Linked DNA regions of Homo sapiens: region 1 is linked to region 2. A link means that fine-mapping ties the variant in region 2 to the expression of a gene that starts in the linked region. Tissue or cell type: whole blood. Region 2 holds a variant in brackets; the other region holds the start of a gene. All regions are shown on one strand. Distances are from middle to middle.

Region 1 (8,095 bases), 38 kb after region 2:
CTACCATGAAGAATCTCCAAGATGTATTTTTAAGTGCGTGCTTGGGGTGGTTGAGGGTGGTGGTGAAGAAAGATGCGGAAGTGTTTATCGTATGCTAAGATTTATTGTTTTTAACAGTTTTTGCTTATATGCATAGACAATCTTTAGAAGGACACACAAGAAACTGTACTCCCTTTGGATTTTATAACATACGTATATGTTACCCTTTAAAAAGTCAAGTTTAAGTTAAAGAAAACACACCCAAATCATTAGATTCTCACTAGGATTCTCAATGTGAAATAGAAGAGGCATTAGATTTGGAAATATGGAGTCTACTCCTGGTTTTCCTGGTGGCTCTAGTAAAAAATCACAATCTCTTTTTTTTTTTTTGAGACGGAGTCTCAGTCTGTTGCCCAGGCTGGAGTGCAGTGGCGCGATCTCGGCTCACTGCAAGCTCCGCCTCCCAGGTTCACGCCACTCTCCTGTCTCAGCCTCCCTAGTAGCTGGGACTACAGGTGCCTGCCACCACGCCTGGCTAATTTTTTTGTGTATTTTTAGTAGAGACGGGGTTTCACCGTGTTAGCCAGGATGGTCTTGATCTCCTGACCTCGTGATCCGCCCGCCTCGACCTCCCAAAGTGCTGGGATTACAAACGTGAGCCACCGCGCCCGGCCAAAAATCACAATCTGTTAAACCAGGAGTCAACAATCTTTTTCCACAAAGTGCCAGATAGTAAATATTTTAGGCTTTCTAGGTCCAATAGCTTCTGTTGAAACTGTTCGACTCAGCCATTGTAGTGCTAGAACAGCCAGGTGATGCGTAAACAAATGAGAGTAGGTACAGCTAGGTTCTAAGAACCTGGGCAACGAAATTTGATTTTCATTTAATTTTCCCAAGCCACAAAATATTCTTTTGATTTTTTTTTTAACTTAAAAAAAGTAAAAACAAGTTTTTAGCTCACAATCTACCTTTGGCCCACGGGCCGTAGTTTGCTGACACTTGAACCATTTGTTCAATGAAGGGCCCGATTCATTATGTCAAAGGTCATTTCCTACTATAATATTCTGAAATTCTCTACTTTTAATATTGCGAGTAAGGCAGACAGAGAAAAAATGAGGAAATACATCTTTAGTTATTTTTAATGATCCAAATATTAAATCAAAGTAATGCGTTGGGGCCGAGTGCAGTGGCTCACGTCTGTAATCCCAGCACCTTGGGAGGCTGAATCAGGCAGATCTCTCGAGCTCAAGAGCTCGAGACCAGCCTGGGCAGCAGCAAAACCCCATCTCTACAAAAAATACCAGAAAAAAAAAAAAAGAAAAAGAAAAAAATTAGCCGGCCATGGTAGTGTGTGCCTGCAGTCCCAGATGCTCAGGAAGCTGAGATGGGAGAATCGTTTGAGCCTGGGAGGCAGAGGTTGCAGCCAGCTGATACTGTACCACTGCACTCCAGCCTGGGTGATAGAGCCAGAGCTTGTCTCAAACAAAACAAAACAAATTAGCTGGGAGTAATGGCATGCGCCTCTAGTCCCAGCCACTCAGGAGGCTGAGGTGGGAAGATTGCTGGAGCCCAGGGAAGTCAAGGATGCAGTAAGCAGATATCATACCACTGCATTCTAGCCTGGGCAACAGACCCAGACCCTGTCTCAAAAACAAAGAAAAAAGAAAGTAATAGGTTGGGTGTTTCAAAAGATTTTTAGCCTTAAGATCCAGATTATTTAAAAAGTGAACTGCCTACTCCCTTTCTTGGACTCCCTCCTCTATGAGTAAAAATGTATTACAGCAACTGTAACACATCATTATCCCCATTCCACTTTCCACTATGAAACTTAAGACTTTTGATGACAGGGATAACATCTACTTTATCTTTGTAACTCCTGCCTCTAACGCAATGCCTAGCAAGTGATACAGGTATGATGCTTGTTCAATAAATAAATAATACATCACACAGTAATGATTTCCAATTTACTCTTACAACTTTACATAGTACTTAAGAAGTCCTTAAGAAATTCTAAAAAATCCTCACCAAGCAGATAAGCAGCAGATAAACCTGATAAACACTTACATGCTGTAGTATAGTGGTAATAACCTAGCGTCCTGGCTCTGAGGTCAGTTAAAACATATGTAAATCTTAGCTCTGGCACTTACTAATCATGTCTCCCTAAACCTCAATTTCTTTGATCCTGTAAAATGGGGGAAATTATAACTGCTTCATGATGTAATTTTAAGGATTAAATGAGAAAAAACATATAAAGCAAGTAGCATAATTCCTGGCAAATGTAAGTGTTCATTAAACAACCACCTTTATAACAAAGTATCTCAAGTCATACTAGACTCCTAACTGGTCTTTCTTCAAGTCCTGCTCCCTCAAAAATTTAATCTTCCAAAAAGCAGCTAAAATGATTTTTTTTTTTTTGAGACAGAATTTTGCTCTGTCGCCCAGGCGCTCAGCTCACTGCAACCTCCGCCTCCTGGGTTCAAGTGATTCTCGTGCCTCAGCCACTGGAGTAGCTGGGATTACAGGCGTGCACCACCACGCCCCTCTAATTTTTATATTTTTAGTAGAGACGGGGTTTCACCATGTTGGCCAGGTTGGTCTCAAACTCCTGACCTCAGATGATCCGGCTTCTTCGGCTGGCTCCCTAAAGTGCTGGGATTACAGGCATGAGACAATGCGCCCAGCCAGAATGATCTTGAAAAACCAATTCGGGCTCAAGCTTTAAATCCTCTCGTAGTTTCCCACTATAATGAAAAGAAAGTCTAAAGTGCTCATCTTGACTTACAAAGCTAATCATCTGTCGCCTCCTTACCCCTCCATGTTCATCTTGGGCCATTCATCCTCTGCCCATTGAGCTTCAGATCCACAAGCCCTTCAGTTCCTCACCCCAGCAGTTTCCTTTGCTAGGACTGCTCTTTCTGGCAGATGACTAGGCTTCTTCCTCTTTCAGATCTCACCTTCTTAAATGTCACCTCAGACAGGCAGGTATCCTGTCCGCTACTGTAACATCCTCTTTAAATAGCCCCCATCACACCTATTTGTTGTTTGTTCCAGCCCCTCCGCGAACCCTGCCTCTACCCGCCGCATGGCAGCTACCTGGGAGAGTGCCTGGAGTTGAATGAATGAAAATAGTCTGTAGGGTGCACTGCCCTTGTCAATCACAAGCAGATTTAATTACCTGTGCCAGAACTCACGGGAGGGAAACACCGTCCGCCAGCCCCGCTCTTTCCTGGCTACAGATAAAAGCTCCAGGTTCCGGGGGTTCCGGTTGGTGAATTCTGGGGCGACAGCTTCATTTTCCACAGGGTCCACTTCAGGTTTCGCTGCCGGCTCGGAGCTGGTTGACAGGGCTGCGAACCTGCACCCTGGGCAACGGGAAAAACCGCACAGGGCTTAAAAATGACGGATATGGACAGCGCACGAACCCGCTCTAACGTCTATCCGCTTTTACACCCCCAATCTTTAGGCCCGAGGGGACGAAAAATACGTATGCCCACAGGGTGGAGTCAGCACTGACCCCGTCCTTAACTTCCTACTGTGGTCTTCGCAGTGCCGCGAGCTCTATTTCGATCCGGCACGTCGAATACAAAATAGAACCCGCACGTTCCAATGTACTGTGCAAGCCCAGGCGAGTGAGCTGGGAGAAGGGGGGCAAGACTAATTACCAGGGTTCCTGCAAACCGAGAACAACCCCCAAAACCGCGACCGAAGCGCCATCGCTGAGACGATCTCGGAAAAGCCTCGCCTCTTTTTCCTCACGGACGACTCAGTCGCTCGCCAGGAGCAGCCATATAAAGTCAGGGACAAGCCTTTGGCTGCTGTAGATCCCCAAACTCTCCACGCCAGACGCCACCGACCCGGAAGTAGCAAGTCCCCTGCCACTGAGTGGCCGAGAAGGCGATCTGTTATCCTTCATCGCCAATCATCGCTCACGTCGAGGGGCACGCAGGCCCTGGAGCCCACCAACCACCTCGTAGCTACGCCCAAGACCACGCTTGTTGCTTAAGTCCGGGGTCAAAGGCACACACCCCACAAAACCATGTTTGGGTTTTCTACTCGGAGAGCTTGGGCGGTCATCGACTGGTCCACACACACCCCACCTGGGCACCGCGTAGGAATAAGGCAGGGCAAGATGCAGTTTTCTCCTTAAAAAGGGTGGTTGTCTTCCTCGAACCAAAAATTTTCCCGTATGGCCCGCTGGAAAAACTGCCCCGTCCCACCCAGGTTCGCGCCCTTAAACTTACACTCCTGAGGCCTGGAGCAAAGCCGGCCGATCTGCCTCACGCTCCCCGAGCAGGGACAAGGAAAAGACACTAAACCTAAAACGCACGACTCGCTCAGAACCCCAACTCTAACTTGGAGAAGGGCCCGCCCCTCCAGTTACACCCCAGCTCCAAGCTCCACCCTTCTTACAACCTTTTCTAGAAGGCACTAGAATGGCCCACTGCGTCTGCGCAACATCGTTTGAGGCGAAGGTTCAACCTCTTCCCAGCGGTCCAACATCCGACTTCCGTTCTCCGCTTTCGCGCCCTTCCCATCGGCTATCTAATTGGACAAAAATGCCGACCCCGCCCCTTCCCCGGAGCCTCACTTCCGTCACAGTCCTGTTTCTCTCCCTGTTGTCCCTGCCTCTTTTTCCTTCCCGCCGTGCCCCGCGGCCGGGCCGGGGCAGCCGGGAAGCGGGTGGGGTGGTGTGTTACCCAGTAGCTCCTGGGACATCGCTCGGGTACGCTCCACGCCGTCGCAGCCACTGCTGTGGTCGCCGGTCGGCCGAGGGGCCGCGATACTGGTTGCCCGCGGTGTAAGCAGAATTCGACGTGTATCGCTGCCGTCAAGATGGAGGGGCCTTTGTCCGTGTTCGGTGACCGCAGCACTGGGGAAACGATCCGCTCCCAAAACGGTAAGGGCGGGCCGGGCCTGGGTCGGGTTTGCGGCCGGGGAGGGCCGAGTCCCACCGCGACCGGACCCCGGCTGCCCTCGTTTCTCTCCTTTACCTCCGCAGAAAGGGCCTCGGGGCCCCGCAGCCGGACCCAGCCCACCCGCCGTTCTCTGGGGCAGGGCGCTGTGGCCCCACTTTTCCCACAGCGAGGAGGAGCCCCGCCGCGCGCGGCAGGGTTTTGAGACCGGCAACGCGTGGATGTGGTGTCCGGGGCGGCGTTGGAAACGCGCCCTCCGCGGGAAAGCGGGCCTCCCGGGCTCGCACGTGCGGGCCACGCCTCGCACCCCCTTTTGTTTCAGGGCGACCCCCTGAGTGTCCATGTTAAACGCCAGGTTTTATTTTAGGACCATTTACCAGAAAAAGAGTAGGTCCATCCGCGCGCCCTCGGATGAGCCCGGTGCCCTGTCCGCCCGCAGCTGCAGTCGAGGTCGGGCGTCCGGCGTCCAGCCGTATCCGGGTTGACAGCTTCTTACAGTAGAGTTAGCCCAGGAAACGCCACTCGAGTGCATTGACCCCAGGAGACGGCAGCGCTAACTTAGCAGAGCGTTTGCTGTCAGGCCTTTGGATACCTACAGAGCTTACTGTTTCTTGATAGATTCCTAATTTTTTTCGTAAACAAATCTGAAAGTCACCACCTTCCCCGTTGACTACCGATTTCTCTCCTCACAGATAAAGAGAGTTTTAATGAGCAAAAAACTTGCAGAATCTGAAGGAAAAGGCTGGTATAGCTGTACGAAGTGGCAGAGCATGAAATTGGTGGTTATTACTTTTTTTTTTTTTCCCCGCCATCAGATTCCACCCCGCATCAAAGCTGTGCCAAATAGGCTCGCTTTGTTTAGGGACAGGGTCCCACCTGTCGCCCAGACGAGAGTGCCATCATAGCTCACTGCATTCTCCAAGCACAGGTCCGCGCCGCCGCATCCGGCTTTGTTTTTATTTTTTGTAGAAATGGGTTTCGCTATGTTGCCCAAAGGGGTCTCAAACTCCTGGCATCAAGCGATCCTCCTGCCTCGGCCTCGCAGTGTTGGGATTACACCTGTGAGCCACAGTGTCTGGCCCCATTTACACTCTTAGTAGGTGGTTTTTAAATAATTAACACAGATTTGTAGATTTGGGAAATACGGGGGCTGTTGGATGTCATTTACCTTTAGGCTGAAATTACTGTCTTTCAGAGTTGTGGCTTATCCTCATTTCTTTTTTATTTTTAATTGATTGTCTACAGTTATGGCTGCAGCTTCGATTGCCAATATTGTAAAAAGTTCTCTTGGTCCAGTTGGCTTGGATAAAATGTTGGTGGATGATATTGGTGTAAGTACACATAACTGTTGTGTTAGTTTCCTTAAAGTAAAACTATCTTCAGTGTTTTGCTATGTTCTTTCTTTGACTTTATCAGAATCCACGTACTGGAAGGTGATATTAAAGGTGAACGTGTATTATAATGGGGCTGTGTTGATTTCTATAAGTGGTTCATATTTTTTCCTGCGAATTTCTTAGGATGTAACCATTACTAACGATGGTGCAACCATCCTGAAGTTACTGGAGGTAGAACATCCTGCAGCTAAAGTTCTTTGTGAGCTGGCTGATCTGCAAGACAAAGAAGTTGGAGATGGAACTACTTCAGTGGTAGGTAGACTGGCTAAAGAATGATCATTTTTCTAAAAACGACCGACTTTCAGAAAGTTGAAGCCATAAGTGGGTCATTTGTGCTGTGTCAGAAATAAGTTACATATTCTGAATGCCCAGAAGATTGAGCAAGAAGAAAAAACAAAAGAAGTTACACATTTAAGAGGGGAAATAAGCTTCTTAGGTACAGATTCAGAAACAAAATTTGTAAGTTGATAGTTACAGCTAGTTTGTACAGTTTAAGTAGGAAAGAATTTGAGTTCATTTGACATAGCCCCATTGTTTTAAATGTTGGTATTCACAAGTTTTGAGGGCTTATTTTTCCTTTTATGGCAGTATTCAGACATCACACAGATTTTTTTATGGTCTCTCAAAAGTCTTGTTTCCTCCCCCATCACCCCTTGAGACTTGGAAAGCTCTCAACTTTTCTGATTATTTGGAGGATAAAATGTTACCAATCTGGGGGAGAAACAATGTTTTTATATTATTATTTTTAAGAGACCATCTGTAGCACAGTCTGAAGTGCTGCAGTGCTGTCATATCTCACTGCAGCCTGGAACTCCTGGGTTCAAGCAATCCTCCTGCCTTAGCCTCCCAGAGTGCTTGGGATTGCAGGCATGTGCCACCACAAGCAACTAATTAAAAACCTCTTTTTTTTTTTTTTAAGAGACAGGGTCTCGCTATGTTGCCCAGGCTGGTCTTGAACTCCTGGCCTCAAGTGATCCTCCCTTCTCGGCCTCTGTAGTGCTGGGATTACACGCATGAGCTGCACTCAGCCTGTTCTATTTTTTAAATCCTGACAGGTAATCTCAGGAATTCAAAATGGGAGTGTGAGAAATTAATAAATACATCATGATATGACAGTGTGATCTTACCGAGTCAGTAAATGTGATACACAGTATAAACTCTTCATAGATCATCCAGCATGCTGGTATAGTAGAAACACTATTGTTTGGTGAGAAAGATGTTAATTCTGGAGAAACTAGATAGTTTGTGGGGAAAATGTATTTCTAGATTAAACTTTAGCCATGAAAGAATGGAATCTACTCCTAAAATATGAATATGATCTTTGTCTAACTTACGATAATGTGATTTAACAAATGTAGTTTTCCTTCCATAAGAAGCTGACAGTCTTTTTGCTTTAAAAATATTTCTTAGTGTTTTATCAACTTGAAGAACTATCTTTTTTAAATAAAATAATAGCTTAATATAGGTCATATGAATAGTCACACTCGGTTTAGCTTCTGTTGAGCATTTTTTCTAAAGGTAATAGATGTGTTGTCTTTTACGGTTGTATTGATGAACTAGTTTCTTATTGCTGAACTAGTTTCTTAGAACATTTTTCTGGCTCCTACCCAGTTTTGGCCATTTGCATTTATAATACAATAAGACCTCACTGAACATCCACAGTGGCTTCATGGAAACTGACTTTAAGAGGAAAGATGATGTATAAAAAAACAAGTTTTCCTCCCCCCATCAGCGTTACAATAAACAACTGTATTTGAGAAATTGCTGTCCATTGTTTTGCTTAAAGTGGCAGTTTCCAAGAATTTATGA
Region 2 (8,102 bases):
ACACAAAATAAGAAAATTACTATTATTATATTTTTAGACATGGAGTCTCCTTATGTTGCCCAGGCTGATCTCGAACTCCTGGGCTCAAGCAATCCTCCTGCCTCAGCCTCCCAAAGTGTTGGGATTACAGGTGTGAACCATTGTGCCCACAAAATAGGAAATTTAAAGGGAGGGGTGTGCATTGTTAGGGAACCCAGGCACCCTGGCCCTCAGCCTGGCCCTGCAGCTCTGGATGAGGCTCTCATCTCCTTCTTCCACCTTTCTGCTTTCCCTAATCCCCAATAAAGGAGAAACAACAGCATTGTGTCATTCACAGGCACAGAGATAAAACAATTTAGATACAACCAGATGGCAACTCTGATGCATGACAGGTGAAGCCCAAAATTGGGACTTAGCCCGGAAGGGTTCTTGGCTTCCCCCAGGAAAGAATTCAAGAGCTACCCAGTGGTGTTCAACAGCAACTTGTATTGAAGCCACAGCATCCAGGAGCAGCAGAGGCACTGCTCCTTGCGGTACAGGGCACTCTCCAGGAAGTGTGTCCAGAGGAGCAGCTCAGATTTAGGGCTGCACTAATATTTACACCCACTTTTAATTATACATGAATTAGGGGGTGGTTTATGCAGAAATTTCTAGGATGAGGGTGGTAACTTCCTGATCACTGGGTCATTGCCATGGAAAGGCGCAATAATTTTTGGGTGTCGCCATGGCAATGGTAAACTGACATGGCACACTGATGGGTGTGTTTTCTGGAAAACTGCTTCCCCTATAACCTGTTTTAGCTAGTCCTCAGTTTGGCCCGGTGTCTGAGCCCTGCCTCCGGAGTCAAGTCCCACCTTCTACCTCAACTCCACACCTTGGCTCAGGCCAAAACTTTATCATTCTTGACCCCTCTTTCTCTTAACTCCACATTCACTCTGTCAGGACATCATAGCAGCTCCACTGTCAAAATACACCCAGATCTAGAGCCCCTGCACACCTCCCCACTGGGCCACAGCCACCTCTTTTGCCTTCCTCCTTCCCTAGTCAGCCAGACCTTATCACCCTGAGCTGGCAGCCCCTCAATGGCTCACACCTCTGCTGAGAAGTCAAAGCAATCACCAGTGCCTTCTGTGCCCCACCTGACCGGCCCTCCACTTCTTCCCTGGCCTTGGCTCCTGCCTCACCCACCCAAGTTCTCTCAGCCATCCTGGTGGCTGGAGCCTCTTTGCAGGGCCAGGTGCTTCCACTGGGCCCTGGGCCAGACAGCACCTGGAGCTCTGTCCACAGCCGGGCAGGTGTCTCAGCCCTGATCTCTGCCAGGTCTCTGCTCAGGCATCCCCTTCTCTGCGCACCCTGCCTGAGCACTGGAAGGCAGCACCCGACTTCTCCTCCAAGTTTCTCTGTAACCAGCACTTGATCACCTCACAGGCACTCTCATCTCGTTGCTTGTCTAATGACTCCACACAAATGCAAATTCCTGAATCTTTGCTTTAATGGCTGCAGCCGGGGCATCTGGAACAGTGCCTGGTACAGAGCAGGTACATTTGCATGGAATGAAAGCCTGCGCTCCAGGGTCTTCCAGTATAAAACACATGCAGATTTTAGAGACAGGAACAAGCCCAAATTGATCAATAAGGGAATGGGAGAATGAGTGCTTCCCTTCCTTTTCTGTTTTACACAATACAATATTCCTTTTTTAGTCTTTAAAAAACTATAACCTCTGGCTTCCAGGAGTTCAGAACATCCCATCTGACTACGAGCACAGGTCTCAGCAGGGTCACGCAGGCAGTGGCCACTGCTGCTGCTCCACTGGGCTGAGGACACGGCCTCAGCAGCGAGGAAGGTTTGGGCAGCTCCCTGGGATGGGAAAGAAAGCATCTTTACAAGCTCACATGTCAAAGCCTCTGTGCCCTCCACAAACCCAGCCAGAGCCAACTTGAGAACAACTTTATCTGGCTTGTGCTGCCCAGAGAATACTTGTTTTTGGATCTCCACTTTCTCACGATCTTTGGCAGAGCCACATCACACACTGGGGGAGCTCTTCTGAGGATTAGGACTAAGTCTACACCAGGGATTCTCTCCCAGGGGAGAGTAGGGACAGAGTAGGCAGCTGTGTGCCAGAGAGCTCTCCTACTATCTTGCGCTCAGAGCAGGCTCGGCCCGCAGTTCCCCTCACAGTGTCTTCCTCAGAAACACTATTGCCAGCAGGCAAATGTTTGAATCTGGTTCTTCCTGTAGGAAAAAGGGATAAAGGCAAACAATAGCAAGAGCTGGGGCAGGGATGGGGCAGAATGAGGGACCTCTAGGGGAGCTTCCGAATGCTGAAATCGGGTGAAGCCATCCAGCACCGCGGCAGAGCTTCCAGAACAGCGACGCAGGAGACTGGGTGGATGGTGGGTGCTGGGTCACCGTGGTGGCCACGCAGTCTGCAAGGCCTGTAACCAGCTCAGCCGCATCAGACCCTGCTTCCTGGGCAGGGCTAACCCCACTCACTGCGCAGGGCTAACCCCACTCACTGGGGAGTATGAGGTAGGAATAGCACTTACCTGGGCAGGTGCTTCATCAGTGTGTCGCTGGAGAATGTGGCAGGCAGAATAATGGCTCCCCAAAGATGCCCAGTGCCCACAGCCTAACCCCAGAACCTGTGAGTATAGCACCTGATGTGGCAAGAGGGACTCTACAGACATAATTAAGGGCTTTGAGATGGGGAGTTTATCCAGGGTCATCCGAGGAGGAGGGTCCGCCTAATCACATGGGTCTTAAAGCATGGCAAAGCATTCCCTGCTGTGGTCAGAGGAGACGAAGCTACAGAAAGATCGATCAGAGAGATTCCACATTGCTGCTGCTGAAGATGGAGGAACAGGGCCACGATCCTGGGAATGTTGGTGACCTCTAGAAGCTGGAAAAGGGGAGGAAGCAGCTTCTCTCTGAGGCCTCTGGAAGGGCACACAGCCCTTCCGCCCCGACTTCTTGATTTTAGCCCCGAGAGCTGTGTTGGACTTCTAACCTCCAGAAATGCAAAATGGTAATTGTGTGCTATTTTAAGCCACTACATTTGTGATGACTTGTTACAGCAGGAAA[C/T]AGGAAACTAATGTAAAGAAGTAGGCATGACTGTGTCCAGTAAAATGCAATTAAATAAGAACTAAAGATATTTCACAGGGCTGTCCCCACAAGCAGGACAAGAGAGCTCTATTTTCAACAAAAAAATTTTAATGCATTTTCATGTTTAAAGTGATAGAAATACATGCTCATTGTAAAAAAAAAAATGGTAAAAAGATCCCTAAATATACAGAAAATAAAACCATATGGTCCACCTACTCTGGGTAGCCCCCACCAAGACTTCTGTGCGTTTTCTTTCAGCTTTAAGTTCACTTTTTTTTTTCTTTTCTTTTTTTTTTTTGGAGACAGGGTCTCACTCTGTCAGGCTAGAGTACAGTGGTGCGTGATCTTGGCTCACTGCAACCTCTACCTCCCAGGCTCAAGTGGTCCTCCCACCTCATTCTCCTGAGTAGCTGGGACCACAGGTGGGTACCATGATGCCCGGCTAACTTTTTGTATTTTTGGTAGAGATGGGGTTTTGCCATGTTGCCCAGCCTGGGATGGAACTCCTGAGCTCAGGCAATCCAACTGCCTCAGCCTAAATGCTGGAATTACATGTGTGAGCCACTGTGCCTGGCCTTTAAGTTCACTTTCATTTTTTATTTTTTGAGATGGAGTTTCACTCGTCGCCCAGGTTGGAGAGCAGTGGCGCGATCTCAGCTCACTACAGCCTCCGCCTCCTGAATTCAAGTGATTCTCCTGCTTCAGCCTCCTGAGTAGCTGGGATGACAGGCACTCACCACCACACCCAGCTAATTTTTGTGTTTTTCTTTAGTAGATACGGGGTTTCACCATGTTGGCCAAGCTGGTCTTGAACTCCTGACCTCAGGTGATCTACCTGCCACGGCCTCCCAAAGTGCTGAGATTACAGGCGTGAGCTACCACGCATGGCCGATTTCACTTTTAAAATATAACTGTCATCACTCAGATGCTAAGTTCTATGTACTAATTTTTTAAAAATAGTACATTTCTGGTTTTGAAGGGATGCACACTCAAGATTTTTATAGTACAGAAAAATATATGACAAAGAAATTCGAAATCACCAGGAGCCCCTCGAGAGATAACATTTTAACATATTTTATTAGTCTTTTTAAAGGATAACTGAGAATACCTTATATAGTACACCTTTTCTTGCCTACACAGGAATAATCACAGGTGTTAGAAGAGGGGAGAGATGATTGATTACAGGTTATTAGTGTTTCCTGCCAACCACCACCATCCCCCAGATTCCATCACAGAACAACAGTCCGAGTTATTTAAAGGTCAGCAATCCAAAGATCCAGATCACTCGAGTTCTTTGGCCATAAAAACAGGCAGCAGATGATGCTTGATATGGTTTGGCTCTTTGCCCCACCTAAGTGTCACGTGGAATTGGAATCCCCAGTGTTGGGGGAGGGGCCTGGTGGGAGACGATTGGATCCTGGGGGTGAACGGCCCCCTGCTGCTCTTGTGCTAGTGAGTTCTCTGGTTGTTTAAAGGAGTGTGGCACCTCCCCCTTCTGTCTTCCTCCTGCTCCAGCCATGTAAGATGTGCGGGCTTCCCCTTCGCCTTCTGCCATGATTTTGTTTCCTGAGGCCTCCCCAGCCATGTTACCAGTACAGTCTAGGGAACCGTGAGTCAAACCTCTTTTCTTTATAAATTACCCAGTCTCAGGTATTTTTTTTTCTTTTTTTTTTTTTTTTTTTGAGAGAATCTTACTCTGTCGCCCAGACTGGAGTGTAGTGGCATGATCGCAGCTCACTGCAATGTCCGCCTCCTGGGTTCAAGTGATTCTCCTGCCTCAGCCTCCTAAGTAGCTGGGATTATAGGCTCATGCCACCACGCCTGCTAATTTTTACATTTTTAGTAGAGACAGGGTTTCACCATGTTGGCCAGGCTGGTCTCGAACTCCTGACCTCAAGTAATCTGCATGCCTCGGCCTCCTAAAGTGCTGGGATTACAGGTGTGAGCCACCGTGCCTGGCAGGTATTTCTTTATAGCAGTGCAAGAAAGGACAAATACTCTATAGCTCTGTTCCTATGGAGAAGAGAAACAGTCTTTTGAGAACCACTCCTCCCTCCATACCTGGAGTGCTGCAGCAGCTCAGCACCAACTGTGGTTTCAAGAGCTGGACGAGTCTCAAGATGACAGGTGGGACACAAGAGCCACATGGCTGCAGCTGGAACAGAAGCCGCAGCCAAAGAGCAGCCTGGGAGAGCCCCAGGGCCCCACTCCGCCAGGAGGCGCCGGGGCTGAGCCTGAGCCTGAGGCACGAGCTGCAGTCCTGTGGATGCTGCCCGACTTGCCTTGTTTTTTTAAACCAGTTTGAAATTACACCATATATATTCACGATAGACAACTCCAATATAAAACAAAAAAAAAAAAAAAAGAAAATTGAAATAACTCATGACCCTGCAGGCAGTGTGGCATCAAGAGAAGCTGCCCACCGCTGGCCGGGGCGTGCCAAGGCCAAGCACCCGCCCTGTGGGTGTCAGGCGTCTCCGTCCTATGCGGGCACAGTGACAGTACTTGGAAGGTCACTGGGCAGTGAGAGTACTTACTTGGAAGGTTACTGTGAGGAGCACATGAATTAATAACTGCAAAGGACTTTATTCAGCATCGGGTGTGCAGTAATTGCTCAGCAATGTCATTCCCTAACATTTTGGGGTGCACCTTCTCAGGTTTTTCCAGTGTACTCATGACCACACTGTATGTGGTTGATACAGTTTGGATATTTGTCCCCCCTCAAATTTCATGTTGAATTATAATCCCCAATGCTGAAGGTGGGGGTCTAGTGGGAGGTGTCCGGCTCACGGGGCCAGAGTTCTCATGAACAGCCTGGGCCATCCCTTGGGTGATGAGTGAGCTCTGGCTCTGAGTTCACCCGAGATCTGGTTGTTTAGAAGTGTGTGGCACTTTCCCCTTCCGCCCCCTCTCTTTCTCCTGCATCCACTATCTGAAGCCTGTTCCTGCTTCACCTTCCGTCATGAGTAAAAGCTTCCTGAGGCCTCCCCAGAAGCAGATGCTAGCACCACACTTCCTGTACAGCCTGCAGAACTGTGAGCCAATCAAACCTCTTTTCCTACAAATTACCCAGTCTTGGGTATTTCTTTATAGCAGTGGGAGAACAGACTAACACAGTGGTTTTCCTGTGCTCATGACAAAAACATCCTCCCTGTCGCTCATCCTTAGGAATTGTTCTGGATTAGGTGCCCTTGGCGGGGACGCCCCAGCCCCTCCCTAGCCAGGACATGCTGACCTTTACAGCCATTGCTTGTGTACTGTCGCCCCACTAGACAGTGGGCAGGGACTGGGCCAGCCCCAGGCCCTCAGTGGTGCTGCCAGCCCACATGAGCAGGAGGCACCCCGCTCTGGAGAGAAGCTGCATTGTAGGGAAGGCACACTGGGGAGTTAGGGACACAAATCTACCTCTCTACATTATGATAAGCACTTGAAAGTACCAGGGGACAGAGGAGGGCCGATGGCTCTAACCGACGTGAGGAGGCGCAGGAGAGGACGAGAGTCTGCAGACCACCCGGCCCCAGCGCCGGCTCCTGCCTCTCGTCCACCACCACCAGCAGCATCCTCGTAACCCCCTCAGGGTAAACCGCCAAAAACTAGAGTAGCAGTTGCAGTGGCAGCAGCAAGGCCACCCCAGTTTTGCCAAAACTGTCCTGCAACTAACCCACCGTGACAATGCTTGCTTCCCATGTTCAAGTAGTTTTGGGTGGTTTTTAGATTTTTGGTTGTAAGTAAGCGTATTTTTCTGTATTTCACCCATTCCAAGACGCACTTTCCCTCCATTTCAACATCTTTGAGATCAGGGTGTATCTTAGGATGAGGGACAAAAACCTCCCCGGCAGCATTTATCCCTTAGTGGAACACAAAACAGTGGTCACTCTCCAGTGAAGGATGTCTCAGACAACATGAGACATGGTTGCACCAAATCAATCAACTATTTAATTACCACTTGAAGCTTTTGTTTCATGCTTAGAAAGCCCTTCTTCATCCCAAGATTAAATCGTTTTCATTTCCTTTTATATGATTTGCCTTTCTTAACCTTAAATATATGACATGTCTAATTTATTTTGGTGTAAGGACTAAAGAATTGGCTTTTTTTTTCTAAACGGCTCTTTGTCCCAGATTTAATATGGTACCTTTATCACAGCAAAATTCCCAGATGCACTCAGTCTATTTCTTACCTAGATTCTATTACTATGCCAATCTCACAATGTATTAATTATAACTTTACGCCATAGTCTCATCAACATGCAATTACAAAGGCACCAATTTTGTGCACATTAAGAAAACACCAATTAAATTAACACACACCATTGACTGTAAGAAATAACCCAATCTCAACGATGTGAAAATGGTAGAAAATGCACAGCTTGGATCAATGTACTCCCATACGGCAGGTGGGACAAGTCATCTTGGTCACTTATCTTTTTCAGAAGTTTCCTGATTGTTATATTTTCCCAAATAATTTTTTTTTTTTTTTGAGATAGAGTCTCACTCTCTTGCCCAGGCTGGAATGCAGTGGCACGATCTCGGCTCACTGCAACCTTTGCCTCCCGGGTTCAAGCGATTCTCCGGCCTCAGCCTCCTGAGTAGTTGGGAGCACAGGCATGCCCGCGCCTGGCTAATTTTTATTTTTATATTTATTTATTTATTTTTGAGATGGAGTTTCTCTGTTGTTGCCCAGGCTGGAGTGCAATGGTGCGATCTCGGCTCATTGCAACCTCTGCCTCTTGGGTTCATCACGTGATTCTCCTGCCTCAGCCCCCTCAAGTAGCTGGGATTACAGGTGCCCGCCACCATGCCTGGCTAATTTTTTGTATTTTTGTAGAGACAGGGTTTTACCATGTTGGCCAGGCTGGTCTCGAACTCCTGACTGCAGGTGATCCACCCACCTCGGCCTCCCAAAGTGCTGGGATTACAGATGTGAGCCACTCCACCTTGCTTCCAGCTAATTTTTGTATTTTTTGGTGGAGATAGGGGCTCAACATGTTGCCCAGGCTGGTCTCGAACTCCTGACCTCATGT

Evidence for each region. PIP is the estimated chance that this variant, and not a neighbour inherited with it, causes the effect.
Region 1: MRPL18 starts here. The variant in region 2 is fine-mapped to the expression of MRPL18 in whole blood (TOPMed, PIP above 0.99). The same link has a PIP of 0.9 or more in blood mononuclear cells.

Annotation. Positions count from the first base shown.
Region 1 is chr6:159,786,186-159,794,280 of GRCh38, reverse strand. It overlaps MRPL18 (mitochondrial ribosomal protein L18), which reads right to left and starts at 3,814. Exons shown (of 4, transcript NM_014161.5): 1 at 3,642-3,814; 2 at 3,155-3,341. The coding sequence starts at 3,693. It overlaps TCP1 (t-complex 1), which reads left to right and starts at 4,679. Exons shown (of 12, transcript NM_030752.3): 1 at 4,679-4,876; 2 at 6,138-6,223; 3 at 6,410-6,538. The coding sequence starts at 4,813. RefSeq lists enhancers at 3,627-3,686, 3,717-3,896, 4,153-4,816, 4,817-5,481.
Region 2 is chr6:159,824,634-159,832,735 of GRCh38, reverse strand. No RefSeq gene overlaps it. Among named protein-coding and RNA genes, the nearest start is that of PNLDC1, 28 kb to the right of the region's middle. RefSeq lists an enhancer at 1,498-2,231. The variant C/T (reference allele first, on the strand shown) is at 3,061.